Regions from separate parts of the Homo sapiens genome. Here region 2 is linked to region 1. Evidence: fine-mapped expression QTL. A gene starts in region 1. The other region holds a variant in brackets. All regions are shown on one strand. Distances are from middle to middle. Region 1 holds the start of SMCO4 (single-pass membrane protein with coiled-coil domains 4). Region 2 overlaps SMCO4 (single-pass membrane protein with coiled-coil domains 4).

Evidence for each region.
Region 2: its variant is fine-mapped to the expression of SMCO4 in whole blood (TOPMed, PIP 0.95).

The regions. Positions count from the first base shown.
Region 1 is chr11:93,537,358-93,553,864 of GRCh38, forward strand. SMCO4 (single-pass membrane protein with coiled-coil domains 4) reads right to left here and starts at 6,034. Exons shown (of 3, transcript NM_020179.3): 1 at 5,919-6,034. RefSeq lists an enhancer at 307-853 and silencers at 5,525-5,764, 5,895-5,944, 6,105-6,234.
Region 2 is chr11:93,488,924-93,505,430 of GRCh38, forward strand. SMCO4 (single-pass membrane protein with coiled-coil domains 4) reads right to left here. Exons shown (of 3, transcript NM_020179.3): 2 at 10,353-10,425. Among named protein-coding and RNA genes, the nearest start is that of SMCO4, 46 kb to the right of the region's middle. The variant G/A (reference allele first, on the strand shown) is at 10,375.

The sequences.
Region 1 (16,507 bases):
CTGAAATCCAAACTGAACCAGTATACAAATCAGATGGTCCTGCCAACAAAACAGGAACAAAATGGAAAAAAGGGTGATAAATCAATGATATCCTGGCTAAATATATACTTCTTCTTTCTGCTTGCAGGGGCACTGCTATAGATTTAAACCTTTGATAAATATCTTTTTTGCTTCCCAGTAATAATTAAAGCAAACACACCCAAACACGCACCTAAACACGAAGCAAAAAGAACGAGAAAAGGGCTTTGCTCAGGACATAATGTTCAAGAGGTAGGCATGACAGCTCATATCCACAGGCAGAAATGCTCTTCTCCCATTAAAACATGTACCTGTCTGGCACGGGTTCTTACCCCACAAAAGAAACAACTGGACACTCTAGGGGACTGCCGAGAAGTGCCCTCAGAACAAGAAGAGGTTCCCTCTTTGAGGGAAAAGTGTAAACATCAAGCAGAAAGTGGGTGAGCAGACTCTTGCACGGAGTGACTCACCGGCAGAGACAGCTTGTTGCTGGAGATGCTGGGAGCAGGCAGGTCCAACAGAGGTAACCTGGCTTCCTCCTCGCAGCGAGAACACAGCCCAAATAAAGCCAGAATCTGACCACCTGACCTCCGGCCTGACCAGAGCCAGCACAAACTCTCAGAAGGGCAGGGATGTTGCACAATTTGGAAAAACGGAAGCCCAAAAGCAAGTTTATGACCACGTCTGGCACTGACTAGGGGAAAGGGCACAAAACCAGTATATTCCTGACATGGCAACAGTGCGTCCTACCGATGACAGGACATGCAGACCCCAGCCAATCATCTCCTTGGGCTCTGATGCCCGCTTCCCTGAGCATGGCTTGGCGCCCCGCAGAGACTGCACCCGTCAGAGGAGGCTGGCCTCGACTCCTCTTGGGGCTGGCCATTATGTTCACTGCCACTCCTGCTTCCCAGTCAACCCCTGCAAGTTTGGTGACCACAAGTTAACCCCATCTAGGGCAGATCAACTCTTATGGAATAGCCAAAACTGAGGACCAAACCCTGGTGGGTCCCCTGTGCCACCAGGGAAGAGGGGTGTGCAGACAATACCCCAGGAAGGCGTCTTCCCTTCCACACTTCTAACCTTGACTAGCATTTCCCAAAATGCAGTCTGAGGAATCCAACTTCATTCTCTGCGATGCTCCTGGAAAGTTAGGAATGATAAGGCTGGGGTGGCACAGGGAAGGGAAGGCCCTTTCGGACTGTGCTCAGCCACCTTTCTCTAGCTGTTAGCAGAGACCAAAGGAGGCACTTTTGGTTTCTGCAGAGATTGCTTTTAGCCTGCACATAGTCAGCATCTCCAACACCCATCCCTGGGGCATCAGACCTGAAATGGGAAGGGATGATGCAATTCTAGTATCCAAAGGCACTAAGCTCTATGGATTCCAACAAGCCCCCTCTTCTCCGCAACCACTGCCACTGTCTTAATGTCTTCTGTTCAGGCCCTCATCTCTCAAGACATTACTTTAATGAACTAGTTTCTCTACACCTAATTTCTACTTGCTTCACTTCAAAACTCCAGACAGCCACCGAGCTACCTTTCTAGAATACAGGCCTGACCCTCTCTGCCTACAGGACTAAGTCCCAACCCTGGCACAGCATGCAAGGCCCCTGCCTGCCTTTCCAGCTGGAAGCATGGGCTTTGGAGTCCTACAGATCATTGCAGTGACACTTAGATAAACCACTTGCTGGCTATGTGAACACACATGTGTTTCTGCACCCATTTCCACATCTGTGTGTTGGGAATAGCATGATCAGCCTCCCAGAGCTACTGTGAGGACCGAATCCAAGTTCTAAAGAGCCTAGATCTCACCAACCTAGCTCCAGGGTCCTCTCTCTTTCCCATCTTGCTATACCAGCTCTTCATAATCAATGAGAATTGACTCAAGGGTAAAAAAAAAAAAATACATGCAAGATCTAAAAATGAAGGGTCATAAATTTAAAAATTAGGCCACCACAATGTGAAAGAAACCAAAATTAACTCATTATCAAAATAATGTAGGAGGACGGAAGGAACAGGAAGAGAAGGAAAACAGTACATTTAGGAAGAAATGCTTTTAAAATATAAGTCTCTATGATGTTTTGAGCCTCATTTGCTCCAAAGATTTAGGAAGATGACATTTCAAAAGCTCACAAAGACGACACTTCTACTTTTTAAAAACTATTTCCTAATTATTATCTTCAGAGAACTAAGAAGTACTTTCACAGACTGAATGTTAATAAAATTCTCAGAGGAAATTCTGGCATCAGTCACAACAAACACCCTCTTGGAATTTAATTTCCTTTCAGCATACAATTTACTATGGAAACTCATTTGTGATGCCACCACAACCAGTCAAAATCTGCCTGGAGCACAAAAACTTCAGAGTCCCAAAAGAGGGCCTTAAAGGACTAGATGGAAATTGGTCCCATATTAAGCCAAATCCTGCATCTAACAGAAATTTCCCCCACACCAAACTAGCTTTGACCGTCAGCCAGCCCACTCCTCTCTCTAGCTGCCCTATACTATAGGCTCTTCCAGGGCCCCCTTCCAGCTAGAACCCCCTGAATTCTGTATCTTTTCCCTGTCCAACAAAATTAATTTAAAAAAAAAAAAAAGGAGGAAGGCCACAAAATGGGCAAAGGGAAACCAGCTACATCCATTTTCAACTTTCTATCAAAGACCTGTCCTTTCTGGCTTACGATTTTTTCAATTCCCTTGGACAAGACAATCACAGGCCCTGGAATATTCATTGCGCGTGCTGGGGCTTAGGGTGGGAAGGCAAAAAGGCTAGAAGAATCATTGATAAGTACAAAAAGTACTTTAAGCCTTTTCCCCCTGAGGACAACTGCTGAAAGACTTACTCAATCCCATTGACCCAAGTACCTGTGTGCAAGGGAAAGGAGTGGATGCCAATCTTTACTCAGCACCCACTGCAATTAGTGGGTACATTTCTTGAATATAAGACAGACAGTATTATCCTGATTTTACACATGTGGAAACCAGGCTCAGAGAGGTCAGGCAGCAGGTTCAGTATTTACACCCAGGCCTGCCAGACTCCCAAGACGCTTGAACTTAACCACTTCACCACACTGCTTCCAGAGTCTACAAGTGTTTATGTTAAAATGTGCTGGGTTAGGGAGCCCGTTAAGAGTTTACTTGTTGCTCTTCACATACAGTATCTCATTTAACTAGCACAACCCTGTAGGATAGCTGAGAATTCCTTTTCCACTGTTAACAAAATGGTACATGGATTGAAAGATCATCAGTAACTTATGCACGACAGCTGTACCAGAGTCGTGCCATCTCTTGGCTTTGTTTTCTCTCCTGTAAAATGATGCTCACTCCTACCTCACAATGCCTGCTCAATGGCAGGGGCTCAAATGGTGACGATTATGATTTTTATCAATACTTCTCAATTAAAGTAAAATTTATACACACACAAACACTAGATATTTTAAAGACTCAACCTAATTAATCAAGCCTTTACTTGTTGGAGAAGATATCATTTTTAACACTACCTCATCTGGTCTGAAAAGGAAAGTAGTTTAAAAAATATTTGGAAAAAATTGTTTAATAATAAAATACCACTACCTCAAACTCAGAGAGAACCACTAACTGCAGCTTCCAAAAAGCTGACAAAAAAGGATTACTGAAAATGATGTGGTCAAACCCAATATGGATTTTGAAAGCTACTAATGGACAAGAACAGGAACATTCAGTTATGACAAAATACACACACAAAAAAAATTCCTCTTCTTCCAGCACCATGGCTTGATCATTAATGTGTGGTGTGACCCTGGCCAAGTCACTTCAATGCTGTGATGGCCCTCAGCACCCAAAATGTCAAGGCCAGCTTATGACCAGGAAGCTCTAGTGAGAAGTTGCCCAGGGGGTCTAGGGGACAGGAGCGGGGTGGAGGGGACACAGATGATTGCCTGGAGCAATTTTTAATGTGCTGCCTCTAACTCACTGCTTGCCTTTTACTACACTCATCTGAAAAGAAATGAGAAGTCTGGGCATGCCAGAGGCAAGAGGAACCAGCTCACCACTTCTCAAGCCAGAATGGAAAAGATGGCAGAAGCATAGTTGTACAAGGACCCCAGCATCAGTCAGACAGAAGGAAACCTATAATATTATGCAATGAGAGACCCTGAGGATGTTCTTCAGACAAACCCCAGCAGGACCAATCCAACTCCAAGCTTGAGCGTCCACTCCAAGCTTGAAGATTAAACAATAAGAAAAAATTCGGGTCCACAGGTGAAATACACACTTTCTAAGCACAATGAGCAACTTTATAGTAGATAGCTGGACAACCAAGTACACTAACTGCAAGCATAAGAACAGTATTCATGTTGTAAATCGAGTACCAACTACTATTAGTTTTTTGTTGTTTTGCTTTTTGCAATATTTCTTCTCATATTTTATTTTAAATCTAAGCTAATTTCTTTATAAGAACAGGCTAAGGCTTATTTTCTGTGGCTGATCCAGCCTTACAAGAAAAAAGATTTCACTGTGTCCCTCAGAAACCTACTCCTGTCTACATCACACTGTCGAGCTCTCTCTTTATACCCCATGTGACAGATAAGAAAACAGAAGTCCAGAGAGAGCAAGTGACTCATCCAAGGTCAAACTTCTTGCTAACACATCTAGGACGAGAATAAGGGCTCAAGAAGCCCACTATGGGTCTCTTGCCGTATCACTGCTGCAAATGACCAGGCATACTGGTGTCTTGAATACAAAGTTTATTTGTAAAGGGGAAAAAAAAAAAGCCAACATGAGTCATCTGCATTGTCAACGGGCTCCACACAGGTTGTTCTAATAAAGCATCCAGCACCTCCAGAACCACTTGTTTCTGAAAGCACCAACCTACGCAGACACTAGCAGGCCATGTCTTCCACCCTTGCCACCCTCGAGGCTGTGAGCAGATGCGCTGTTGGGCTCTGGGGATCTAGAGGTGTCACTTAAAGAGCAAGGGAGCCTGGAGCTTGGCAGTACTGACTGGATGAGTGGATGGGTGGGTGTATGAGGACATGGGAGTGTTTTCTGACAGCTCCCGGAGATAGTTATGATATCATGCAGCCTAATCCCACTCATCTTGGAACACCCCAAACATCTCATCCGCTCAGCTGTCCCTCCTCAACTTCCTCAGGGCAAAAGCACTGCAGTCTGAGGTGAATCTGGCCGCTGGGGAGGGGCGGTAGTCGGCCCCAGCAGCAGAGGAAGCAACGCTCAGCTCCCTCCTCCACCCACCCCGTACAGGAACTCCCCACTGGGTCTTCAGATGCCAGAGGCGTACCCAGCTCGGAGCCTGCCCCGGGTCTCAGGGTCGGTCCCGAAAGAACGGGGGAGGAGGAAGGCTCTATCCCGCCCCCGCCTCACCTCTACTCCCCGACCCCCAGGCGCCGACCCTTCTCACCCGCAAGGTCCGCCGCCGGACTCTTGTCCACTCCCAGAGACCCTGAGCGCACCCCTTTCTCGGCGTCCTCAAAGGACCCGCGTTTCCCACCTTCCCATACGGGGCCCTCCCGGCCGCCCCGGCCCAAGCCCTTTGCACTGCGTCCCCCGGCCCCTGAGTCCGCCCCGCACCCGCACTTCCCGCCCGGCCCCGCGGGCTCGCGGTCCGCCCCAACTTTTCCCAGCCCCCGCCCCGCAGCAACCGGGATGCAGCGTCTCGAGCCGCGACGGGCAGGCGAGCTCGAGTCCCTCGGGCCCCCAACCCCGCCCGCACGAGTTGCGCTCGGGACCCGCCGGGCGCCCAGGCCTGGGTCAGCAGCACTGCGCGGAGGCGGAGCCGGCGTGGCGGGAACCGTACTGTCCCGGCGCCGCACCCCCGCCCGGTGCCCGGTGCCCCGTGCCCCGCGCCCGCCCGCCGGCTCGCCCGCCCCGCCGCCGCCGCCGCCGCGCCGCTCCCAGCCCACCTGCCCGCGGGCGCCGCCGCCGCCGCCGCCACCACTGCCGGGAATACGTGGCAGTGGCCGCCGCCGCTTGCGCTCCCCGCCTCGCCTCTCCTCTCGGCGCCCGCGCGGGCGACTCTGGCGCGCCAGACCGCAGCGCCAGGCGCCCTCTGCCGCCGGGAAGCCGAATCCTCCCGTCCTAACCCTAACTCGCTGGCTGCCCCCGCCCGGGCCTCGGCTCCCGCCCCCTCTTCCCCGTTCCCGGCTCAGACTGTCGCTTCCGAGCGACCTGGGTTCTCGCCCGGCCTGCTGCTGCCGCTGCCTCCAGGAAGTTCGCCCTGACCACCTCTGCAGGCTCAGCGCGCTTCCTCCGGCTCCCGCGCAGCGGGTGCTTAAGTCACCCCCTTGTTGATATATTTCCTGCTTCTTTGAACGCCTCGCCCGTGAGATAGCAGAATCGGAAAGGGGATAGTTGGAGGCAAACGCCATGTCTGTTGTGTTCACCATTCTCTCCTCCAGGGCAAGGTTAGCGCCCTGTCTGGAATACTGAAGTGCGCAATAAATACTTGTGAAGAGAGCAAACGAGTAGATGAATGAGTTGAGACTTTTACCGCTGTCTACCCAAGTAGGCTTTGAAACCTCAAGCGGACAGAGATCCTGACCTGGATTTGTTTTTTGTAACTTACACGTGCATATGTGTGCGCAGCTCAGCATAAATAAATGAGATTCACAATTCCCCACCTCGGACCAGCGCCAAATCCGCAAGAGGCCCACGGCTAAATGTTATTCAGGGCTTTTGGTCAAACACGTTTAGGTTTGAGATCTACCTCTTAAAAGCTGGGCAATCGCGGGAAAGCTCATCTCCCTGGCCCACAGTGAACACGTCTATAAATTAAGAATAATAAAACCTACTTCACAGAGTTGTGAGAATTAATTGAGATGGTGCACTATAAAGTTCTTTACGCAGCCCCGATGTGTGCGGTGGTATGTAAATGGTAGTTATTGTTGTATTACTACTGATGCAGTAGGTGATTTTAAAAACTATCTTCGAAATGTAAAATATTGACTACCTTTTCACCTTAAAACCTTTATATGTGTGGTATTGTCACCTGCTCAGCAAGGCCAGCCCGGGGAGCAAGGCCACTCCTGTAACCTCTTCCCCTCCACCGGTAAAAATATAACAAGTCTTGGGGTTTTTTTGTTCTGTTTTGAAGAATTGTGGAACCCACTCTTCTGCAGGTTTTCCACCTGGATTTCTGTGGCCAATCTCTTAATTAACAAGTTTTTATTTTAGGGATGTCAAAGACAGGGAGCCCTTTGAAAGCACCTGCAGTCTACTGGCTCTTCCTGTTTTCTTCCTGACCCTCTCTCAAACAACTTAAGGCTTTTTTTTTCATTTTTACAGGAAGTGTCCTTCCTGCTGCGTACAAAAGGCAGCAATGCAGTAGAGTGGGATCAGAGGGGATTGGGCTGCATACACCTTGGGCTTTCTGCACCTCAGTCCCCTCAACGGTAAACTGTGGAGAATAAGACCTTGTCACATTGGGAGATCATTCATGATCCGGTCTGTGAAGGAAATAAGGAAATACCTGAAACACAAAGATATTTAATAAAAGGCAACTATTGATCAGTTTATTTAGCATGTATTTAAGGAGCATCTTTTTAGTGTTCTATGCGCTGAAAGAATGAGGGGAACACGCGTGTGTGAGGTAAGTTTCCTACCTTCAAAGGAGTTTGAGCTGTAGCTCCACACTAGGGCAGAGGGATTGGGAGCATATGGGATGCAGCTAAATATGAAATTAGCAAGCCTCAAGGTTTAAATTGGGGCAGTGGTACTGCCGTGTGAATTGCTTTAATTCATTATCATTGTAAATGCCATTTTCCTCTAAATATTATGTACACAACTTCCCAAGGCCACTGCTAAAAATTAATGAATAATTTTATGAGGCAAGCAGAGCCACTGATGTAGGACTCAGTCCCTTAATAAGGTGACTCCACATGCTCCCTTATAGTAGTAATAACATAGATATTGTGTCTGTGAAAGTGCCATCCTTGGCTGGGCGTGGTGGCTTACCCCTGTAATCCCTGCACTTTGGGAGGCCGAGGTGGGTGGATCACCTGAGGTCAGGAGTTCGGGATCAACCTGGCCAACACGATGAACCCCGTCTCTACTGAAAATACAAAAACTAGCTGGGCGTGGTGGCAGGCACCTATAATCCCAGCTACTTGGGAGGCCTGAGGCAGGAGAATCACCTGAACCCAGAAGGCGGAGGTTGTAGTGAGCTGAGATCATGCCACTGCACTCCAGCCTGGGCAACAAGAGTGAAACTCTGTCTCAAAAAAAAAAAAAAAAAAAAAGAGAGAGAGAGAGAAAAGAAAAAGAAAGTGTCATCCTTTATAGGTTAGAGTTGTGTATCTTGCAATGCAAGTCTCAGAGGAAAAGTTTACACATTTTACACTAATGGCTTCTAATGAATCACCCCTACTGAGTTGTCCTTCTGTAGCTCCCTCCCACGTTGACCCTGGAGTTGGCCTTGTGACTTCCTTTAGCTACTGGGACATGAACAAATATGACACAAGCAGGGGCTTTCGATGTGCACTTGTGCCTTGCTCCTTGCTTTCTTGAAATGCTATCCTGAGACTGCCATGAAGAAACCTGGTCCAACTCCTTGAAGAGGAAAGACCCTGAGAAGAGAAAGCCTTGCTGTCCCAGCTATGCAGCCCACCAGCTCTCAGCCACATGAGTGAGCTCCAGGGAAAGCCAGCCAAAAATAGTCCAGCCAACCCAGGAATTGTGAGAAATAAAATGGTGGTTGTTTCAAATCACTAAGTGTTAGGGTGGTTTGTTATACAGTAATAGATAACTGACACACAGATCACTCACAGGCACTCCTGCAGTTACAAGTTCTAGATGAAATTCACCCAAGAATCAGTACTCTTGCTAGCGTTTTCTGTTATGAAGCATTCAGTTGAAGTCACTAAATCTAAGCTTAGCAGAGCATCACACTTCATGTAAATACCCTCTTTGAAAGTTCTTCATTGAATTGGTTACTGAGCCTAGTACTGTTTAAAATCCTTTGGCAGTCAACATAACAATGGGCTGGCAAAATCAGCTTGTAAGCTACCAAAAGCTTTAAACGTTAGAACTCCCTGGAACATCAACAGCAGGTATCATAGAGGTTAGGTGTGTTTATCTCTCCCACTTGATTGTAAGCTCCTTAATGACAATTACATTTATTGGCATGGTTTTATCATAGATCACGAAACATCAGAGATGGAGTTAGAGATCATCTAACCCACCACCTCATTTTACAGATGAGAAAACTGGGGCTAAGAGAAATCATCAGAGCCTTACAAATATCCAAGGTCCTGGAGCTGGCTCAGAGCAGAACTGGGATGACCAATTCACAGTTCTTTACGCTGTTAGTTGAACTCTTCTGTTTTTCCTTTGTGACATTTTTGCTATTTAAAATATTCTTCCCATGCTCAAAATATGTCTGTAACTTTCCTATGTGCTGGTGATAAAATCTAAACGATTATACATGGCCCCATGAGGTCTGGTGCAGCTTGCCCCTACAGAGATATTGGTACTGTTCTGCCCCTCACTCAGCACACTTTGCCCAACTGGCTTTCTTTCTGTTCCCCAAACCAGCAAGCTCTTCTCTTCTTCACAGAAAGCCCCTTCCACATGCTGTTCCTTCCACTGACGTGCTCTTTCCCAAACTCTTCACTTTGCTAAATCCCGCTTTCCAGAACCCATTAGAGTTCTGTGGTACATTATTTGGGAAATAATGTAAACAAAAAAATTTGGTGCACATAGAGGTAGCTCTCAGTCTCTTCAGCCAAGTTTTGGAAAGCTCAAAGACCAAACAGCTCAGGAATCTTATGGAGATTTGATTCCTAACAGACACCTTGTTGAGGCTCAACCAGTGGAACAAGCCACTCTGGTTTTTCTGTTTTTGCATCACTCCACTCAAGATTCCAAACCCTAGAAGAACGTCAGCCTTGGTTAGCTTGGCCACATGCCTACCCTCAGCCAGAGAAGAACAGGACACCTTGAATGAAAGCCTCCAAACATAATCATCAGGGCATTGTTACCAAAGAAGGGAAAGTTGATCAAGGATAACAAAACCAGTGAATGTCCACTACATAATCTCTCGGGCCTTGCCTTAAATGTCGTCTTCTCAGAGAAGCTTTTCTTAACCACCCCATCTGTTGCACGCTTTCATGACACTCCTTGTTTTTTTCACTGTTCTCATCATATTTTTATAGTTACATATTCTCATGTGTTTGTGTCTCTCGAATTCTCCCTCCACGAGAAAAGGGACTGCGTTTGCTTGCCCACTACTATACCTTCAATACCTAGCATGGAGCCTGGTGCATACAGGAACTCAATAAATATGTATTAAATCAATCAATAAATGAGCAAACAAATGAATGAATAATATAAGCCTTGTGAGTCTTCTGACTTAATCCATGTGATATTAACTTTGTAGGAAGAAGGAGAAAAGACAAAGAGAATATAATGAGTGTAGGCTGTGGAAGATTCTCTCTGCTGGGTCCCTTTGTGATGCTGTGGGGAGGACAAAGACTCGTGTGCAGGATAAATGAAGAAACACAACCTTGTGCATCAGAGATAAGCCATGTGTTGTGCTATGCTGTACTGTCCTTGAGGGATAAATTATGCAAGTAATGAAGTAAGAGGGGGAGGCCTAGAATGGTGGTCTGCATGTCTCAGAATGTTTGCAGAAGTAGGAACCCTCAAAACTGCTGCCTGACTGCAGCTGCCAGGAGCTGAGGTCAGGAATGTATGTTCATAAACCTACTCCCTTGGCCCCTGTTCATGCCTGGCTGTGCATTCTCTGTAGCAGAAGTTCCAGAGTTATCTGCCGATGGCTGCAAATCCACAGACAGGTTTTTCACAACTCAGAGGTAAAATGAGAGTAATCAGAGCAATGTAAAGCTAAATGTATGCAATTCTTGTATCAATGATTATTATATTTGTAATCATTTGGATGTGGGTTTTTTGTTTTGGTCATTTTTTGGCAAAATAAAAAGTTGACAGCCTCAGTTTCCATTCCCACTCCCAAAATGTTTTTGTAATGGTTTTGGTCTATGAAATCTGAAAGCCTCAGAAATTCTCACTTTATAATCTCAGAGACCTGGACAATCCCTGCAAAGGCTTCAGACCCATCAGAAAATCAACTGTTGTTGTTTTGTTGTTTCTCATGTTTTAATCATGTAGCCTGTTTCCTTTTCTGCCTCATACCTACTTGGCAGTCATTTAACTCCAGTGGTTAAAACATGGGGTTAAGGGGACTTCACTGCCAGAATCACATCTGTGGCTGTGGGTCAGGAGGGAGCTGGGCCTTGGTTCTGTCCTGTCCACAAGGAAGACCTGGACTTGAGGTCTGGTTGTTACCAGTGGAGGGTCCAGGTTCTTGGCATTTCGAACATTTGAACAAAGAACTGGAGAAAACACACAAACAAAGCAAGGAAAGAGTGAAGCAACAAAAGCAGAAATTTATTGAAAATGAAACTCTACAGGGTGGGAACAGCCTCAAGCAGGTGGCTCAAGGGCCCTGGGTACAGAATTTTCTGGGGCTTAAATACCCTCTAGAGGTTTCCCACTGGTTACTTGGTGTATACCCTGCATAAATAAAGAGGCTGAAGTGAAGTTGCAAAGTTATTTATTTGGTGTACACTCTATGCGTATGAAGAGGTTATTTCCTGTCATAGCTGAAGTAGAGTTACAGAGTTATTTACTTGGTCGTAGAAAGTTGGGGTTTTTCCGTTTGATTTGCTTCTAGGAAGTCCTTAGTTTTCCTGCCCTGAGACTCTATTCCCCTGCCTTATGGTCAGTGGCCATGAGTGTGTGTGTACACTCACATGCATGTGTGTGTACTTATGGCAGGGAGAGTCCTTGGGTGTCCCCAACACTCTTCCACCGTAGGGGAGCTACTTAACCCTAAGAGGAGATATTGTTCTTAATCCCTGTTTTACAAAGAAGGAAAATAAGACTTAGAACGTTTAAGCAATTCACCCCAAGCCTGGTTAAATACAAAGTTCAAATACTTAATTAACCTTAACCTCTTTGGTCATAGTTCAGGTGCTTGATTGGTGTTACCTGAAGTTAAATCTGATATGAATTCCCAGAAGCCAACATTATGGAAAGACTTTTCTAGAACTAGGAAAGAGGTAAAAAAAATTTTTTTGAGTCAGGGTCTCACTCTGTTGCCCAGGCTGGAGTGCAGTGGCACAATCACATCTCACTGCAGCTTCAACCTCCTGGGCTCAAACGATCCTCCTGCCTCAGCCTCCCCAGTAGCTTGGACCACAGGCATGCACCACCATGCTTAACTAATTTATTTATTTTTTTTTTTTTTATGTTGAGACAAGGTCTCACTATGTTGCCCAGGCTGTTCTTGAACTCCTGGGCTCAAGTGATCCTTCCACCTCAGCCTCCCGAAGTGCTGTGATTACAGACACAAACCATCATGTTTGGCCAAGAGGTAAAACTTACCCTCCCTAAGTTAAGAGGGAAAACTACCAGCTTCTTGGATTTAAGAAGCCGTAGAGCTTGAAGTCCTGTACATTTATGTAAGTATCAAGTGTTATAATAAAAATGTCTTTTTCTCACTGGTAGTAATTCTTTTAAAGACTTCAAACAAAATTATACCTATTCTTGGAAATTAAGTAAGCATGCCCATTTTCATAAAGCTGTGAAATCCCATATAAGGAAAAGTTTTAAGATCTCTGCTTTCGTTTGAAAAAAGCACCAGAGCGCTACTGAAAAGTTCAACCCAAATCTTCATGCTTACTGCCCTGTTTTCTGAAATTTAAGTCTCTAGCTAAAGAATGGGAAGGAATTCCTACTCTACCCCTGCTGCCGGCAACCAAAGCATGCTCTCAAGCCAAGAACACCAGTGAACCCTTTAAATTTCTCCACAACTTTCTCCCTGCTGGCAAATGTCAAGTTTCTATTTCAAAAGAAATAAGAGCGTCATTAACATGCCTGTCTTCATGCTCTTCTAACTCCTTTCAGAATTTTGGGGGGTTTTGCTTGAGAAAGTAAGACCACACTAAAATCACAACTCCCCAGGGTGTATCATTAAAGGTGGAACTCGGCCAGGCATGGTGCCTCATGCCTGTAATCCCAACAATTTGGGAGACTGAGGTAGGAGGACCGCTTGAGCTCAGGAGTTCGAGATCAGCCTGGGCAACATGGTGAAACCGCATCTCTACAAAAAATTTTAAAAAATTAAAAAATAAAAATAGCCAGGCGTGGTGGCACACCCTGGTAGTCCCAGCTACTTGGGGGGCTGAGGCAGGAGGAGCACTTGAGCTCAGGAATTTGAGGCTACAGTGAGCTGTTATCGCACCATTGCACTCCAGCCTGGGTGACAGTGAGACCCTGAATTTTTTTTATTTTTATTTTTATTTTATTTTTTCAGGGAAAGTATGTGGCAGAGAAGAAAAAACAAAAATGGAACTGTTGGTGTGTTTAGAAGGGAGCAGGGGAGCTCCACTTTTATTCCATAGGCTGTAAATAGCCCACTATCATTTTTAAATCCCAAAGTAAAAAATAACACTTAATTACCTTAACTTTCAAACCTATAACCACAAGATCTTCATTAGTGACTCATATACCAGCTGTACCTTTTGGTCTGGCACATTTTTTAACATCAAAGGTGTTTCCTATCAACTATGTCTTTTTCCCCAAGGGAGCTTCATCTTTATCAGAAAGCAATGAGAACGTTTCTAGTCTATACTTAACTCTTCAATCACTTCACATGTATTTACGGAACACCTAGTACATGCAGGCAATTTATCGAGTTGTGTGAATATAAAAGCAAAAAAGACATATACTCCTTTCCTTCCCTAGAGAAACTCACAGATCAGTGGAGAGAAAAAATGTATATAATTACAAATTTTACAAATGATGTTAAGCGTGCTGAAGAGAAAGAACAAGGTTCTATGAGAAAGTTTTATAAAGAGAACAAGTTTTATATTGAAAGGTCAGAGAAGACCTTTCTGGAAGTGATCTGAAAGTTTGACCAAAGAGATGAACAGGTATTGGCCCAGTGAGGAACCTCCTGGGGACGTGGTCCTCCTCACCCAAGGCTTCTCTATGTCTCGGACAATGATCAGGACAAGAAGTGCAACTTCTCGGTGCATCATTGCTTTCAGAGAGGAGTCTTGGGGCCCTGTCTCCCCAGAGGTGCAGAGGCAAGACAGGGAGTCCCCAGCTTCTTCCACAGGGGCTTCCTTCTCTATCCAACCCACACTCTGCTCTCTGAATTCCTGACTCCCCTCAGCTGCAGCACTTAGGTGAGTATTTTACTCCAGGTGAGTATTTTGCTAGTTCCTGTGCATATGCAGTCTCTGCACCTAAACTGTCAGTGCCTGGAGAGCGGATGGCTCTATCTAACTCTCCTTTTTTAATGCTCATAGTGTCTACAAGAGAACTTGATTCATAGCCACCATTCAACAAACACCTGTTTAATGGGATTGAATTTTCAGCATTTAGTAGTGTACTAAACATCTGATGTGAAATAAGAGCCAAATTAGGCAAAGTAAGCATGATTTAGAAGTGCAGAGATGGAAAGAAAATGGTATGAAGAGCATTGGTGTAGAAGTACTTCCTGAAACTTGAAGGAATCCATCTGGTATCGCTTTGATTGACTTTGTTAAGGACACAATTCCTAGGTTCTGAGACTCCTCAACTCTAAGATGCAACAGTCATTGAACAACAGTTTACTTTTTGAGGGGTGAAAAATGGCTGCTTTCAATGTTTACATATATTGAGAGCCATAGAGCCATATTCTGACTTTGGAAACACTAAAATGTTTCCAAAAAGTATGTTTTATAATTTAAAAAAAAGTCAGTACTCATCACTACTTTTTTTTTTTTTTTTTTTTTTGAGACACAGTTTCACTCTGTCGCTCAGGCTGAAGTGCAGTGGCACAATCTCGGCTCACTGCAATCTCCTCCTCCAGGGTTCAAGCCTTCCAAGTAATTGGGATTACAGGCATGCACCACCACAGCCAGCTAATTTTTGTATTTTTAGTAGAGATGGGGTTTCACCCTGTTGGCCAGGCTGGTTTCAAACTCCCAGCCTCAGGTGATCCACCCACCTCGGCCTCCCAAAGTGCTGGGATTACAGGCGTAGGCCACCGTGCCCAGCCACGTTATTATTATTATTATTATTATTATTATTATTATTATTATTATTTTTGAGACAGAGTCTCGATCTGTTCCCCAGGCTGTAGTACAATGGCGTGATCTCGGCTCACTGCAACCTCTGTCTCCCGGGTTCAAGCGATTCTCCTGCCTCAGCCTCCTGAGTAGCTGGGATTACAGGCACCCGCTAACAAGCCCGGCTAATTTTTGTATTTTTAGTAGAGACAGGGTTTCACCATGTCGTTTAGGCTGGTCCCAAAGTCCTAACCTCAGGTGATCCACCTGCCTCAGCCTCCCAAAGTGCTGGGATTACAGGCGTGAGCCACCGCACCTGGCCCACATTATTACTTTTAACAGGACTTTGTTTTCTCTTTTGCCTACCTCATGTCCACATCAATTTAATTTTTTTTTTGTAATAGTGCCTCAAATTCCTTTTAGGAAATTATTCTTCCTTATTATATACAGCCTGCTGGGTTATTTCATCAAGGTGTGCAACTTTCCCCTAGTGAAGGGATTGAGGGACACCCTACCCAAGCTAGACTATTCAGATGTGTCAACAGTGACCAGAACGTCAAAGGCCTGGCCACAGATGGAGCTTACTCATTCCAGGCATGGGATGTAGACAAGACTGTCCAGAGCTTCTGCTACAAAAAGCCTCTAAAACCACATGGTTCCAAAGTCCATTTCTGTTATTTACAGGCAAAGAATTCTAAATGGGACAGTGCTTTTTGCTGATAGTACATCTAAAACTGAAGTTCTTAATCTGAGGTCCAGAGACTTGGACATGGTTCATGGGTGGGTGTCAGGGTTCAACAGATAAGATATAATTTTTATATCTGCTGATGAGTTTATTTTCCCAGTGAGATGGTCTACAGGCAGCTTTGATCAGATTCTCAAAGGGGTCTATGGCTGAAAATGGATTAGAAACAATTGATCCCAGAGCAGGAGTTCTTAATAAGTCTGTGTATAAACTCAGATGGGCAAAAATTATATCTTTGTTTGTACTAACTTCCATTCATGGTTGCTTATTTATGAATGTTGGTAACAAACCACAGTATTATTAGCAATTCCCATGAATTTGCTACCAGTAGAAATCAGATATTTTCATATCATGTTACAGTGTTGCAGATCTCAAAACATAATTTACACCTTTCACTGCTTTAAAATTACAGTGTTAGTAGACCCAAGCTAGATCTTGTTATTCAATGTGTTAATAAAGAAGCATATATATTACTTGATCACCAGATACTTTAATATTTTAAAGCTGCATCTTAACATAACTGGTTTCCTTGGTAATCTGTATGCTTTAGTTTCTTCAAAACATTATTCTAAGTAGTCCAAGGGCTTCATCAGACTGCCAAGCCTATAATACCAAAAAGTCACTAGCCCTCTTAGGAAAATCTTGGTAGGACCAAGCCTCCTAGCCTTAC
Region 2 (16,507 bases), 48 kb before region 1:
AGGCAAATGAAGAAGGTGTCCTGAGGAAGGGGGAGCTGGCCATCTGGTCTGGCCACATGCAGGTCCTCTATGACTTGCAGAGCAGTTTCAGTGAAGAGGGGTCAGGGGCAAGATTGGAGTAAGTCTGAGGGAGGGTGGCAGCAGGCAGACAGAAGGCAGTGAGAGCAACTCTTCTCCAGACTGCAGTAAACAAGAGCACAGGGAAGACTCGGAGGCAGTGCCGGCCTGAAATCCTAGTTCTGCCGTTTATCGGCCCTGCAACCTCAGGCAGGTTACTTAATCTTTCTGTGCCTCAGATGTCTCACCTGAAAAATGGGGCTAATAATTGGACCTAGAAAACTGATATACAAGAATAGTGACTGGTACATAGTAGGTATAATATAAGCATTAGCTGTCATCATCATAAGGAATAATGACAAAATAATTATGTATGAAAAATAATTCCTCAAAGAAGAGCATCTGCTTAGGAGGCAGGGAGAGAAGGGAGATGTTGGAAGTCTGAAGAGAGAGAAGCCATGAACAGCTGTCCAGGAGGCGATGACTGAATGGGAGGAGTGGCATGACCTGCCACCAGCTTGGGGCCCACTGCAGTTGGAGGCCACACAGCTTGAAGCAGGAAAGTCAGGATGGCACCAACCGCGCAGGTGTAGGCATAGAAAAAGTAGGAGGTTCAATTTAACCAGGGATGGGGTTTCATCAGGCCAGTACGACAAAGTAAGAGAAAGACAATGTGAGGATGACATGAGATTACAAAAGAAAAGTCCCTGGCATAGGCCCTGAACCTGAAATCTGACCGTTGTTCAAAGAGCTTAAGTCATGTGTCCAAGGAGCCCCCTCTCTCCACAGCTGTCCCTCACCTGTCCCCCCACACCTCTCCCCCTCCATCCCCAATGCAGAGTTCAAGATCAGAAAACAATGCTAGACTCTCAACTCTGTTCTTTCAACTAAGCCACATCCCTCCCTTTCCAGTTGGAGGTATTGTCACATCCCTCACACCAAGTTGTGATAAGGTGACTCTCTTGTTTGTGAGAATACTTCCAGGCTCAGGGCAGTCTAGAGACCAAAGCAGCCCGGGTAAGTGCAGGCTCGTCCTCAAAAGCTCCTTCCCAGAGCCAGCAGCAAAGGAGGTTCCTCCTGCCTTGAGGAAAGGCTGCCTTTTAAGGACAGGCCCTAAGATTGCACGAAATCCTCTAGGTGCTCACAACCAGCTTCTCTCACTGAAGGTGGAGTAAGGAAAAAGGAGGAAGCAGAGCTTTTGAACAGGTCTTGTTATTTAACCCTGGCCAGCCAGGAAATGCTCTTCTTTACAGAGCAATCAGAGTTAAATTAATAGCCATCAGCAACCTGAAACACAGCTACTATGTCTTTAACTAGTTGACCTGAAGCAAATTCAACCATTAAAAGGACAAAGATGATAACTAAATAAACGTGAAGTAACTTGAAATTCCTGTAAGAGGGTCCAAAACAATGGCTTTTGAAATGCTTATGATGTGCAGAAAGAATATAACGGCAGCACATGCAACACAAACTGAAATCAGAGTTTTAGAAAATATGTGTTTATATACTCTGATATTTCATTTCATTAAAAAAATGCTGGTTGAGATCCACAAAAGAGATTTCACAATCAGTCAATGAGTTGAGACCTGTAGCTGAAGTCCACCAGACTAAGCCGACCTACCAGTCAAGGCTGCCTCTCGCAGACTTCATATATTTAATGGTTAAATCGCAATGGTTAAATGGCCCAGGTGAGGTTGTGGAAACACTACCTCCAGAGGTCTGTATATTAAAAGGGCATAAATTACAGGTTGAAGAAGTGCTAGATTTAGCTGCGGCTCTAAAAGACAGAACCTAAACCAATGCGTAGAAATTATGGGGAGCCAGACTGAACTGCCTTTGGGGCAGGGAACGCTCTATCTCCCGGAGAAACCAAGCAGGGTCTGAAAGACGAATAGGATGCTGAAGAAGGGACTTCAGAAATCATATCAAACAGATGGACCCAAGAGTTACTGAAGTCTCTTTCCATTCTGACAGTCTTCGCTACCTTGATGAATAAGTGGTTATAAGAATGAAATGCAAGCAATGTGTGTGAAAATGCTCAAATTACAAGCTCCTCTATATACCGTCATTCCTTAGATGGCAGTTCTTTATCCAAACCTGTAGGTTCCCTCGACTTCATTTGCTATTCAAATAGGTACTTTAAAACAGCAGGTACTAAAAGTAAGCATGGCTAATTCATCACTTCCTTAACGGCAGCTCAACTCCAAGGCAAGGCTGGGGAAGAATTCCTGAGAAAGCATGCAAGCCATCCAATGGTGTGCACTGGGTTTTGTTAAGGCAGTGCTTCTCCTAACTTGCCCATCTGAAATATGCAGAAGTAAGTGAATGCCTATCCCTGGAGGCCATGTTAGGGCATGGCCAGGGTAAGAATAAAATTTCCTTTGGCTCCTCTGTTATCTTAAAACATCAAGTGATCACATGAAACATCTGCCTTGTTGTTTACTTACAATGTGCACACACTGTGATAAAGCCTTCCGTGGCTCTCACTGATCCCTGACATCCCCGTGCTGTTGGCTCTACTGCATCACAGGCTCCCACCTTAGAAGTGAGAAATGAGTTTTGAGATTATGTAACTTGCTCAGGACCACTAGGCAAGTAAGTGGTGAGACACAGTCAAACCTAGGCAGTCTGGTTCCACAGCCTGCTCTTAACTACTAAGTGATATTGAATTCTCCTTTAACAAATATCAGTATTGGTTGTAAAATTTTAAAATGTTATTTCTCCCAAATCTTTGGGTTAAATGTGACCCTTGAGGAAGATGACCACACTGACCCTGATCCTTGGCCCCCATGCTGGCATGCTGGTGCACTGGAGCTAGAGAAACACAACTTCGCCAGAACTTGCCAGCCTGTCCCCATGTTTTTATGGCCAGGTGTGGGCTAACAGCCCCTTCTCCCCTAGACACGTAACACAGCCCTCATGTTCTTTTAGGCATGAACTTCATCAACAACCAAGATGCACAAGCACCAGTTGTTTATAACATCTTTAAAATGGAAAATTCACCTCTCAGCTAAATTACAGTAAGTTAATTACAGAGCCTGGCTGATGGCAGACAAACGGAAAGAATGAGGGACTAACTGAATTTATCAAACAGAAACAATAGCACACATCAAAGATTGTGCATCCGGGCCTTCCCCCAATAAAGAAGCTAGGGACTAGCCCCAGAGACAGGCGAGTAAGCTCCAGCAACCGTTCATTTATCCAGCTAACAGTTGCTGAGCACCAGTGTTGGCAACTAACCATGCACAGATTCATTTACTCACTCACCAATTCATTCTTTCAAACACTTCCTGAGCACCTACCACGTGCCACAAGCTGATTAACTGTTGTGAATATACAAACTGATTGACTGGTCCATCTGATCATTCATTGATTCACCAAATACAAGGCAGACTCGATGTGCTGGGTAATGTCCTGGTGACAGGACAGAATAATGAAAACAAAGTTCCTGGTCTCATGGAATTCACAGTCCAATTGAGGGAGATAAAAAATAAACAAATAAAAGTGTAATATGTCAAGGAACAAAGTGCTATGAAGAAAGACAAAAGAGTGTAAGGTGACCAGGTGGGAGACGTGATTTAACCCAGAGAGCATTACAAGGGACTGCCTCTGTGACTGGAGAGCAGAGGCCTGCAGGAAAGGCTGGAGCAAGCCCCAAGGAGACCTCAAAGAAGAGGGTGCCAGGGAAGGGCATGGAGGGCAAAGGCCACAAGGCAGGAGCAGCCTGAAGGTTTTAAGGGGTAGCAAGGGGCCAGGGCGACCAGAGCAGAACGAGTTGATGAACGATGAGCAAGGGGACTAGCCAAGGAGCTGAGACGGCCGGTCCAAAAGGGATTCTGCAAACACACTGTGCACTCTCAATGCTTACCATGTGTGCTTCACTGCAGACCTTTGATTCCTGACAAAATTCATATATTTTGCAAAAGAAAGGCAGTAAGCTAAGCTGCTATCAAATATTTACATAGCGGTGTGTCAATGTTCTCCAAGGTCTCCTAAGAGTCTATTTTAGGGTAGGAGAAAGGGAATGACCCCATCAGAAAATGAACTTGAGCTGCTGAAGTTGCATTTGTCATTAACAAAGTGATAAATATTTGATCTTTAATTTAAATGTCCTCCTTTTTGCTGAACCTTAAGCTGATTTACCAGTCAATGAGAATGGTTTCGGCAATGGCACAGAACAAGAAGGCTTTTGAGCACTGAAGACAAGGTTTATTGATCTTGCCACTGGTCCAACTGCAGACTGCACAGAAGCCTCCAGGTCAGCAAGAGTCAGACCAGCTCCAGTCTTAGGTCCACTCAGGCCACCGTGGGTCCACTGTTAACTAAGGCAAGCCTGGGCACCAGAACAGAGGAGAGCTCTCCCAGTCACCTTCTACTCCACCTTCCCCACGCTGCCCCCACCTGCTCCTGGTTAATAGCTTACCAAGGGCTGCTCATTCTCCTCTGTGTTGACTCTAGAATCTGTATCACACGCCACCCCCAAATAAAATAGAGGCTGCAGACACTGCACGCATACCCATGCCTGTATGTTCTCCCTGCCATTACCGAGTCCTCAGCATCTCCACCCAGATGCCTCCCTTCCTCCAGCCTCCTGATTCCTCAATTTCCAGGGAATGATTTCACAGAAACCCATGTCTGATCTTAGTCCTCTAACTAGAATGTGTTCATGTGTTCCCCACTGTCAACAAAACAGGGTACAGATAGGACCTGGCTTTCAACATCTCTGTGCTGAGCCCAACCCTGACCTCTGACATCGCATCATGCACGGCTGTTCTGTCTGCACATAGTGGGAGAACAAGCCAAACTCTTGCCCACTTCCAAGCCTCCTCATCTTGGCCTGCTTTACTTACTTGCTAGATGATACAAGACTGTCCCTCTCGCCAATGCTGCCCAAGCCAGAAGTCTGGGGATCTCCTAGATACCACCCCTCTCTGTCATTCTCTACATCAGATTGTTCTCCCTTATCCTAAACATCTCTCAGACATACCCCTCTCTCCTTCCCCACAGCCCTCATCTTTATTGATGAGGAAATTGTGATAGCCTCCTCCACTGTTTCTCTGCCTTCACCTTACTGCTTTGTCAAGCCTTAAGTAATGCAAACACTCCTGAGTCCTTTCGAAACCACTGTCCATGGAGGCAAGGCAAGGGATGCCACCCTTGCTCATCTCACATATTTTCCCCTTAGCAGGAAAAAATAATATGGTAGTAACACTGAAGAATCACCAGAGAAGCAAATGTGGGAGACAGAGACATCTTTTGCAAAGGGATATAGACGATGCATCTAAATTTCATACCTGTTTTAAAGTCTAGTTATCATAAACTTTGAAGCCAAAACACATTCCTAGCATAAATATGCATCACTTCAGAGTGCAGGGTTAACCACCAACCAAAAAATGTTAACCAAATAACAAGAAAGCCAAGTTAACAGTATAATTAGACCTCTAGATTCCCAGCAACTTTAAGTTGCTGTCACAAATTCAAGACCTCACTGACGTTGCACTGTCAGAGTGCCATTTCCAAACCCGCAGGAATCCAACCGCCTGTGTCCATGCTCAGCAGGCACCTGGAATGCACCACTGCTGAGCATGGCAACCCAGGGGAGTACAATCATCCAGAAACTCCAGCAGGGCACTAACTTAACACCAATCACATGTCAGTCACTTAGCAACATCCAGCCTACCGTCATACCTAAAATGTGCAAGTCTCTGGAATTTTAAGTCTCACACCCATTAGAACTAATAAAAGGACTTGCATATCTGAATCAGATCACTGACTTTCAGGAGAAGTCTTAGTACAGACCATGCCTACAGAATCCCTATTGTAAAAGACAAACCCGGTCCAGTAACTCCCTAGTATTTAATTCTACAGTGGCATTCCACTGCCTTTAGAATAAAATCCAAATCCCTTGCCTAACCTGGTCCCCAAGGAAGGACCTGCATGATCTGGCTCCTGCCTACCTTTTGCACTCAACTCCCACCCCACCGTGCCCTCCACCACAGCAGCGACCCTCCTCAGTGTTCTCTGGCATGCCACACCCTTGCTGACCTCCCAGGCCTTTATCCATGCAGCTGTCTGAAATGCCCTTTGCACCCCTATTCTCCCAAGCATTCCTTCTGCTTGGCAAAAAAGTAACAAGCAGTTGGTACTTGGCATCTCTTTCAAGACCCATCTCAAGGGTCACATGACTTTCCATCCCCCAGGGTGAGTGAGGGGCCATCTCTGTGTTCCCAGGACTCTGGGTAATAAACTCTATCACAACGCTCATCACACTATTAAAATCACCTTTGCTGGTATTCCCATTACAAACTTTGCTGTAACTCATCAGGCCACAGTGTACCAAACATCCAGCTGGAGTTTCAATATTACCATTAATTACCTTGGGGAAGGCCTGAGAATGGAGAGTATCATGCCTAAGATGAAATTCAGGTACGTGCTTTTCAGATGTGTGCACGGCAGCACACGCAGGACCTCCGACACACACAGGAGTAAAGCTCAAGACTAAGGAAAACAAATCGGCTTCAAGATAGGAAAAACATATTTAAAAAGGAAAGCTGTATGCTAATATTTAGCTTTCTTTTTCCCTTGTATAATAGAATGCCAGTCTTTTCTTGTACCAACCTAGAACCAAGTTTCATTCAAGATTTCATGAGCTAAAATGCTGTTGCACATTTTTATGTCAAAATATGTGGGTGGGGGATGGGGAGGTTGCTTGGGGAGTAGCAAGGAGTATTGCAATTTCAGCTGATTACTTATTGGCTATTAACTTATTAAGGTTACAAATGAAATAGTGGTCCACCTCTGTGTTCTAGGAGTTGTTATTCTGGTGTTTGGAGGAACAAATCACTCCTTGTTCCATTTCCCAGAACACAATATTCATTCTAAGTACACCTTTGAGAGCCTGAGTTATTTTATTGCGTTTGGAAAATTGAAGTCACTGCAATCTTCCTAGGAAGTCAAGAGTGAAGGGGAGAATGTCTCACAAGCTACAACAACATGGTGCCAACAATGCTGTGCCTCTGTAGCCAGGCCTGGGGCCCAGACAGTGCAGTCCACTCCATGGGCTGCACTGGGCTTATGTGTTTCATCAAGTGCAGGATGAGGTCACCAACAGGTTTCAAGCAAGGGAATTACATGATTTGACAAGAATTTTTAAAGATTGCTCTGGGTCCAAATTGATGAGAGGAATAGAAGAAAAGGGGAAGCAGGCAGGGCAGTCAGTTAAGAGGCTTTGGCAGTCACCTGGCAAAGGACGATGTTGGCTTGGACTTGGGGGGCGGATACAGGAAGGCCATGGATGAATTCAAGATGTACTTTAGGAGAGGCATCATTAGGATTTGGTGATTTGGGGGAAGAAAAAGATGAGTATTAACAAATGAAGTACCAGTTTCTGGCCTGACAAAGTGAGTTAACAACTACGTACCTTAATAAGATGGGGGAAGGGAGGAGGCCTAGAAAGGGACTATGGTAGAAGTAGACCAAGAGTTAAAATCTGGACACAGTAAGCTTGAGGTGCCCATGAGATACCAAGTTTGCTAACTGCCATAAAGGGTGTAAGAATGCTATAGAACACAGAGGAGTCCTGGGGCCAGCCTCAGAGGTGACCCCTGTCTATCCTCTCATGGTGTCGGAGGTCCTGCCACTGTGCCAATTCAAGGTGGGCACAACCACTGAGGAGCACCTGGAACCCCACTCAGCCAGGACACATGAGGGTAGCCTCTATGAGGATCCTCACTAATGCAGATCCAGCTTTGGGGTTAAGAAAACAATAACCTTAACAGTAAAATGGTGCTTGCATCATGCCACAACTAAAAGTAAAATGTGAAGCCTGTTTCCTTTGATTACAAGCATCACGATAGGCTTGCAGATTTCTCGATACTGATGCTTCAGATTCCCAGTAAAAGGGTGTTGGTATCTGGTCCTGGGCCCCAACGCTTACACTATGGGGAGTAACCTGTTTGGGGGATTCCAGGTTAGAATTTCCCACAGGAAAATGTTAATCTAAGAGAGTATCAGAGGAAGGTCTCTCAACATAAAAAGACCAGAGATGGTGGCCTGTTTTAGGAAAACAACAATTCACTGAAATCACATCCTGCTTTTAATAGCCCCCCTTCTAGAATAGAAGCTGGTTTTTTATTATGATGGTTCTATTTTCCCATTTCCCCATCAAAGGACAAATCAAAATGTCACCTGACAATCCACTTTCATTAAAAGTTGAGCAATTTTTTAAAAATCACAGTTAACTAAACAATTCCACATGGCAATAAAGCACTGTGCTCTGCTGCCTTGACTGATAGAAACCATTTGCAATGATTTAAAAGAGAAGGAAGCGAAAGAACATCATCAGATACAGCTGAATTAAGCTGATCAAACCTGTTAGTGTCTTCCAGTTTACTCAGAGTAAGACAATGCAGCATTCATGTAAGCTAATTAAATTTCTTGTATTTAAATTAGCCTTAACAAAAACAAAACTTTCAAGACTGACTGGAAGGTCTCAGGAGGAACATATCTGCTTTTTCAAGAAAGCTGCCTGGCTGAGGGTGGAGGGAGCACCAGGGTCAGACTCTCAACAGAAGGTCAAGACTCCCCTCCCTCAAAGGAACACTGAGGGTAGAGACGGTTCTGTGACACTGTTAGTTTGCCATGGCTTCCAAAGGGGGGTACCAAGATCAGATGGTTGGGGGGAACTGAACCCCATTCACATCAGTTCATGATGTTATGCAAGACATTGAACTTCTGAGCTTATTTCCCAACTTTGAAAATGAGAAGTTACCACTTGCCTCTGCCTGCTTCCCAGGACTGGTGGGAGAAGAAAATCTGCCGACGTGTGTCAAAGCACCTTGCAAAAGAGAAAGCACTCTACAAATGTGAGAGACAGTTGCTGGTTACTGTTAGGCAGAAAGGGCTGAGTCAAGTCTTCCAAGATGATGGTGACCAATTAAACTGATTTTCTTTTTTTTGAGAACTGTCAGTTGATTATTTATTTTGTATAAAAGTTACATTGAAAGAAGAGGTTGAAAAGTCAAGTATACTAGATTTGCACACACTTGCGAAGTCTCACAGGATTCAACCACTTGGATAATTTCTTAATTGATAACAGGATATACATATTAAAAGCCTCACACTGAAGCCCAATACACGTCAAACCCAGACAACAATGTGCAGATGAATACGCAAAACAATCTCTGGAAATTTGTATCTCTGGGAACACCCACAATCTATGCTTTGTCCCTCTGGCTATGATGCATAAACTCATAAAATTAATAAGAAACTTTTATGGGATCTTTAGCAGTTACAGTAAACAGTTTGAGAAAAGGAACCTGCTGACTTATTCATTTAAAGGACAAAGGTTGGGGGCAGGGAGGTGGGTTAAGACACAAAGTCACTGAGTGAAGCAGTCGAGAGCATGGCACAGATGGAGAAGGTGATCCACCTGTGCAGCAGATAGGAGGGGCTACAACCACAGCGAGACCTAAAGCCCCCCACATGCAACCCCCACTCACACCCGCCACAAGCGGAGAAGGGGGCTGGGGAGCTGTGCTCCAGTGACCACTGGCATCCAGCTCTGCCTGTCACCTCCCTCCCCACTTCTGGATTCCTGCTCTTAACATGGGTCCAAAATCAAATGTGAAAAAAAAGTATCAGATACAAAAGCTTTGCTATTAGCTTCATTTCACCAATAGCCAAAGGACACCTGGCGAAGATCAGGAATTTCGGATGAATGCTCAAAGATCATAATGTATTTAAGAATGATTCCTAGTACAGGCCCAGTAAGGGAGGCGTGGTGGGGGTACAATGTGGGTCCACACAGGAGCAGGCCTCTTGTGGAGAGGCTCCTTCATGAGTCATTCGAGAAACATTTATGGAATACCGACTGTGTCCCAGGCACAACTCAGATGCACCCTTAAGCAGCTTACTGGGGAAAACACAAAAACAGGCAACGAGAATAAAGCGTGGAAGTAAGTACTATGATGGGGGGTGTGTCACAGACCTCTACCCGACTGGCCAAGAGAGGAAGGGTGAGACCATCAGGGGAAGGGCAAACGAGAACACAAACATCACAGGAAGGAGAAAGTGTCGTGGGGGTTCAACAGCAGGAGAAATCACCCGCAGCCTGGAGGAGATCCTCCACAAAGGACAAAGGTGGCATTTGATAAAGATCTTGAGGGATGAAGAGGAACTTGGCCAGGCAGAGAGAAGGGGTAAAATATTACACACAAAACTAGGCATATGAGAGAAATGACTGGGACAGTAACCTCTCCCCAGACAATGAGTTTCCCTTATAAGAGAATGTTTACCTTTTCTTCAACTTCAAGAATC[G/A]TTGATTAATTTCAGCAAACTGATTTCCAGTACAGGTGACTTGAGTTATTCCTGTTGAGAAATTAGAAGAAAGGGTATAATAGCTGCTGGGGAGGTATCCCTCCACAGACTCCTTTTTTGGAACCCCCTCAGCCCATGCTGAGAGGGCAGTCACACGGTTCCCCTCTCCCAACTGGCTTAGGGATAGACACTTGTCACCGCCCTGCTCCAGAAGGGCAGACAGACAGATACACTGGCACATGTGTGCATGTGCGTGATGGACAGGACCAAGCAGCCCCTGCATGGAGTTAGAGGGGCCTTCCCACTCCTGTGCCCAGCAGGCAGTCAAGCTTTGCTTCCTGTATTCCTGGGATTTCTACAACAAACTCGCTGCTAACTTAAGCCGCCATGAGACCATGGCTGTTCCCTGCAATCAAAAATCACTGATTTAAAAATGAAGGATACAGGTTTGGGATTAGAAAAGAAACAAACGCGGAAGGTGAAGGAACAGAGGCTTTTAAACCAAAGCCTTGGGAAAAATAAAAGATGAGAAAGTGACCCAGGCATCCGAACTACCGTCCCATAACATCAGAGAGGAAAGGAAGAGAGATGTGTGACAGCCACAGAGGACAGCCAACAAATTAACTCAAAACCTCAGTGGCATTAAATATTAAGTTGGAAGCCCAGATACTGGGGGAAAGGAGCTTTTAGTATGGGTATTACCCATAAAGCAAAATAAATAAGAGTTCCCTTGAAAGTAAAAAGGTGGGAGACTCCAAAAAGTGTCCATAACAAGCAAGACATAATTGAGTAATGGTACAATGCCTATCATTACTAAAATACGTAAAGATAAATCTTGGTTTACCGTGCTTTTTGTTTTGTTTCAAACAAACATTTCATTTCAAGGTATGGTGGGTCAGCAATCAGTGCTGAGTTCAGCTGGGCTTTTTCTTCTGGTCTTGCCTGGCTTATGTATGTGGCTATAGGCATCTGGTTGCTCCACTGGGCCAGATGGTCTCAGATGACTTTGTTCATGTTAGTGGTTGGTACTGGCTGCTGTGCTGCCTTCATATTCTCTTGCAGTAAATGTAAACAGTTGTTGTTTTTTTATTCCCAAAGAGCTTCACAGATGTATGCCCGACCTCTATCCTCGCCATATTTTTCCATTAGTTCCTGAGTTGGGCAATCACAAACTTACCTACTGTGGGGATTTAAGAACCTAATGTCTTATAGCCTCTTCTACTAGGGAGCACTGATTTTGGTGAAGTCCAGAGATTAAGGTATGTAAAAGGGAGGGATGGGACGCAGAACTGGAAAGGGGAAGGGAGTTGGTTATTCAGGAGTCATGAATGCCAAGTAAAGGAGTTTGGACTTTATCAAAGCAGCATGTAGTCTAGTCCCCATTCTCTAAGAGATAATTGCCATTCTGAAAATATGGAAAGTTAAAATTGGGCTCCAGAGGAAAAATATGACCTGAGTTAGAGGGTCTATAAAGACTGAAGCAGTCAGCTGGAAATTAAGTCATCAGCAAGCCGTGACCTCTACCCTTGACAGGGTTCTTTGCCTGCTGCTGTTGGCTCAGTAGCTGCAGCAAAGGCTCTACCAGTTTGCCCTAGTTTCTAGGCCTTCTGAGCAGCTTGTCGCCCCAGGGGCTCACTGGAGCATCAGCTTTCACTGAACAGGGTACAGAACAGCGACAGGGACACCAGCTGGCCTCCGAAGGGCAACTCTGCTATCTGCTCTCCCCAGATCTGGCCCTGTCTAAATATTCCAAGTAGCAGAGGCACCTGCTGCTCGTCCCAGACCTATAGCACTTTCTCTCACTAGGCCTCAGTTTCTTCATTCATAAAATGATAGAGACTAGATCAGTGGTACTCAACAGGAGTTCTGCAAACCAGTGCCAACTCTGCTGCTGGGTCATGACCAGATAAGTACAGAAATTGGGAGTAAGTGCTCAGAAGCTTTTCTAGCAATATGAGAAAGAGAGAGCCAAGCACATAAACAGCAGAAGTGTCTTGGACAGGGCACAGACTAGTATATGAGTTTCCTGAGGCTGCCATAATTATCACTGGAAGGCTTAAAACAGGAAATGTATTAATTCTGAAGGTCAGAAGTCTGAAATAAACAGGCAATGCCATGCTCCCTCTAGAAGCCGTAGGGGAGAACTCGTTTGTCGCCGCTTCCAGCTTCTGGTGGCTTGGCATTCCCTGGCTTGTGGCCACATCATTCCGACCTCTGCCTCCATCTTGACATATGCCCTCTCCTCTTGGCACACTGCCTTCTCTTCTGTGTCAAATCTCTCTCTGCTTCTCTCTTATAAGAATATCTGTGATGGCACTTAGGGCCTACCAAATAATCCAGGATGATCTCATCTCAAGATCCTTACTTAGTCACATCTGCAAACCCCCTTTTTCCAATTAAGGTAACATTTATAGGTTCCAGGGATGTTCTAATCTAAGCACATCTTTGGGGCCACCATTTAGCCAACTACGGCGGGTTTGGGTATTGTTGAATTTGTGCATGACCTGCTGCACATGGTGTATACTGTACCTTTCCACTGGGGAAACACAGCCACCCTGTTTCTAAATAGCCTGAACAGCAATGGGCCAGATGACGTCAAATGTAGCAGGTTCCCTTGAGCACACACACTTGGAACCCCTGCTATGCCTCTCTATAGCCCAGAGGCCTGGGCTGCACAGGACCAGACTGCAATGGGCACCACCAAGAAAGGAGAGCAGGCTAGCAGGTGACCCAGGGGGCAAAGTACAGATGCAAACTGTTCCCTTAGCCTTTCCCACGGCTGATCTCCCAGATAATCTGGCAGGCAATGCAGGAGCTACCCCTTCCCCACCCCATACTCCTGTCCCTCACATGGCCTTAGTTGTAAAGTGATTACATTAATCTGTTTTCTGTTCAAATGTACCTCCCTCATCCCATCAAATGCTCAGTTTTAAATGTTCACATTTGAGAACAGAAGCAAAACTATGCTATTGAAGTCCCTGTAAACCTAGCATTACCCTGCTACTAACAACCTTTCCCCCAACAGCCCTCCCCCTACCCTCAAAAACACCCAGCAAGTTTCCAGGCTTCATAACAGAATGGAGAAGGCACTGGGGTGACTTCACAAAGCAAGGATTTCATTTTGTGTTAGAGGTTTTCTTGCATGGTCAGAATACTCCTCACTGAATGAAACACAAAATGTAGGGTCCCTATGCTGTACATTTCAGGCTTAAAGGGCAGACTATATCAAAGGACCTCAGAGTATTGAAAATGGTAACATGCGATAACAGGTATGGCCATGGTAAAACAGGTACTCTCATCATTCAACTTTCTGGAAAGCAATTAAACAAATTCTCATTAAGTGGCTTAAAACTATACACACCCTTTGACTTTGTAATTCCATTTCCAGAACTCTACACTAAGGAACAAAACTTAATGCTACACGGCAACATCATACCTGAGATAAAAAATGAAAAAGAAACTTATCCAACAAAAGGACAGAATTAGACAAATTATGGTAGATTCATTTAAAAACTCTTATGCAGCCATTAAAAATGACATCTAACAAAGAATTGTTAATAAAAATCACAAATACAATACTAACAGCTACTCCTTACACAGGCCAGCCACTAACCTGAGCTTTTTAGGTGTTCTGTATATGTTAATCTTTGTAATTTGTATACCAACTCAAGGAGGTAGGTACTATTATTCCCATTTTACAGATCAGAAAGAAGAGGTACTGAGAGTTAAGGCACTTGCTCAAGATTAGATCCCACAGAGTCTGGCTCCAGAGTCCATTGTCTAGAACCCTGTAGAAGGCTGAATAATGGCCCCAGAGAGGTCAGGTCCTGTATCAGTCCATTTTCACGCTGCTGATAAAGACATACCTGAGACTGGGTAATTTATAAAGAAAAAGAGGTTTAATGGACTCACAGTTCCATTGTGAGGCCCCCCCAACCATGGTGAAAGGCAAAAGGCATGTCTTACACGGTGGCAGACAAGAGATAATGAGAACCAAGTGACAGGGGCTTCCCTTATAAAACTATCAGATCTTGTGAGACTTATTCATTACCACAAGAACAGTATGGGGAAAACTGCCCCCATGATTCAATTATCTCCCAACAGTTCCCTCCCACAACACGTGGGAATTATGGGAGCTACAATTCAAGGTGAGATTTGGGTGGGGACACAACCAAACCATATCAGGTCCCAATCCTGAAACCTGGAAATGTTATCTTAGGTGGAAAATGGTCTTTGTAGACATGATTAAGTCAAGAATTGTGAGATAAAGCTGTATTCTTGATTATCTGGATTGGACCTAAATTCACATGCCCTTATAAGAAAGGTAGATTACACACACACAAACACACAGACACACACTGTGAAAACTGAGGCAGATATACGAATGACAAGACCACGTGCCAAGGAATGCTGGCAGCACCAAAGGCTGGGAGAGCAAGGAGTGGAACAGATTCTCCCCTAGAGTCTGTGCACATGGAGCACGGTCCTGCCCATACCTTGATTTCAGACTTCTGGCTTCCAAAACTATGAGAATATATTTGCTATTTTAAGCCACTCTGTTTGTGGAAATGTATTACAGCAGCAACAGGAAACTAATACAAGTCCATGTTGCTCTCAACACAAGAAAAAGTATTCATATGTTAAATGGAATAAGAAGAAATCAAAATTTATACACAATGATCTTAATTATGCATATAAAAATACATGCAAATAAAACAAAATGTTTATAGTGATTATCTCTGAAGAAGGATTATGGGTAATTTTCAGCATTATGCCTTCTGCTATTTACCCAAATTTCTACAATTAGTCTGAATTATTTTTACAAAGAAAAAGTTATTTTAAAAGTAGGAATCCATGATATTTCTGCAACTCCAACTTAATCAAAGAAGATTAGAAATCAAGAGGTCCAAAAACTCAATGGGAATTTCCCTAATTCAATCTCAGAGCAACACCAAAAAATTTAGCAACCTGGATACATGTCATTCCCTAAATGACTCCACTCAACCCTTGGTCTCTTGAAAGCCTGTTGGTTTTCAGACTCTGGCAGGAAGATGATGTGGCTGAAGAAGTTTCAGGCTTCTTTGAAGAGGATAACCTGAAAAGGTAAATATTTTCCTGCTTATCTACCCATACAAGAGAAGGAATGAGAGATTTTTGTGCATTCCCAGAGCTCATCCAGCCCAAAGCCTGTGGCCACATGCCAAAACCAAAAGCACCAGTTAATAAACATGTAAATGTTTGATTTCTCTGTAGGTGACTTTGCAGAATGAAACATCAAATCAAACACTGACCTAATCTTCTTACAAAAGTCCTGACTCCAAGGCTATTCTGTCGCAAAACCCTCCTGCTATCATCTGCCCAGGAAGCCACCAGACCACAGGCCAATTTTACTGTATCAACATCATGCCCTTTGATTAAATATATTCATACAAATAGTATATTAACATTTTCCCCAACGTGTGGGCAGTACTGGATCAAAACAGAAAGATGTGTTTTTCTGTTTTGCATGGTGGGGAAGGGAAGAGTCACTGGATCCATCCAAAATGGGGCCAGGTCAGAGCAAGGGGGTGCAGGAAATGCATGTGAAATGATTTTATTCAGTCCCCCTGTACAGCACAGTGAGTTAGGGCAGTGGGTGAAGAAACCACAGTGTAGGGTTTGTCTTTCAGTCCAGGTTTTTCTAAGTATGTTTATGCATACTTCATGCAGTCTATCAATATGTACAAGTACTTATTAAACATGAGGCACTAAGAGAAAGTTGTCTCACGCTGTAACAGATCATGTCTTCAACATGCTACACTCTCAGATGATGCAGCTGGGCAAATGGACATCTTTACTGATCTTCAGCAGTCTGGATCACAGAGCTGCTAGCAGTGGCAGAACGTTGAGAGGAAGACCTAAATGGGCCTGGCAGAGCTTTGAAAATGAGTAAAACAAAAAACAAATGATTTAGCACTGTCTACTTTCCTACACACCATTCACATAACAGTTCTAATTTCAGTAACTACTTCATTAATGTCTGTACCTCCCACTTAATCATCTACTCCATATAAAAAGTATAATTAACACTTTCCCCAACTCTGTTTTTTTTCACTTGCTATTGTATTACCCAACCTAGCAGTGTCTAACTTTA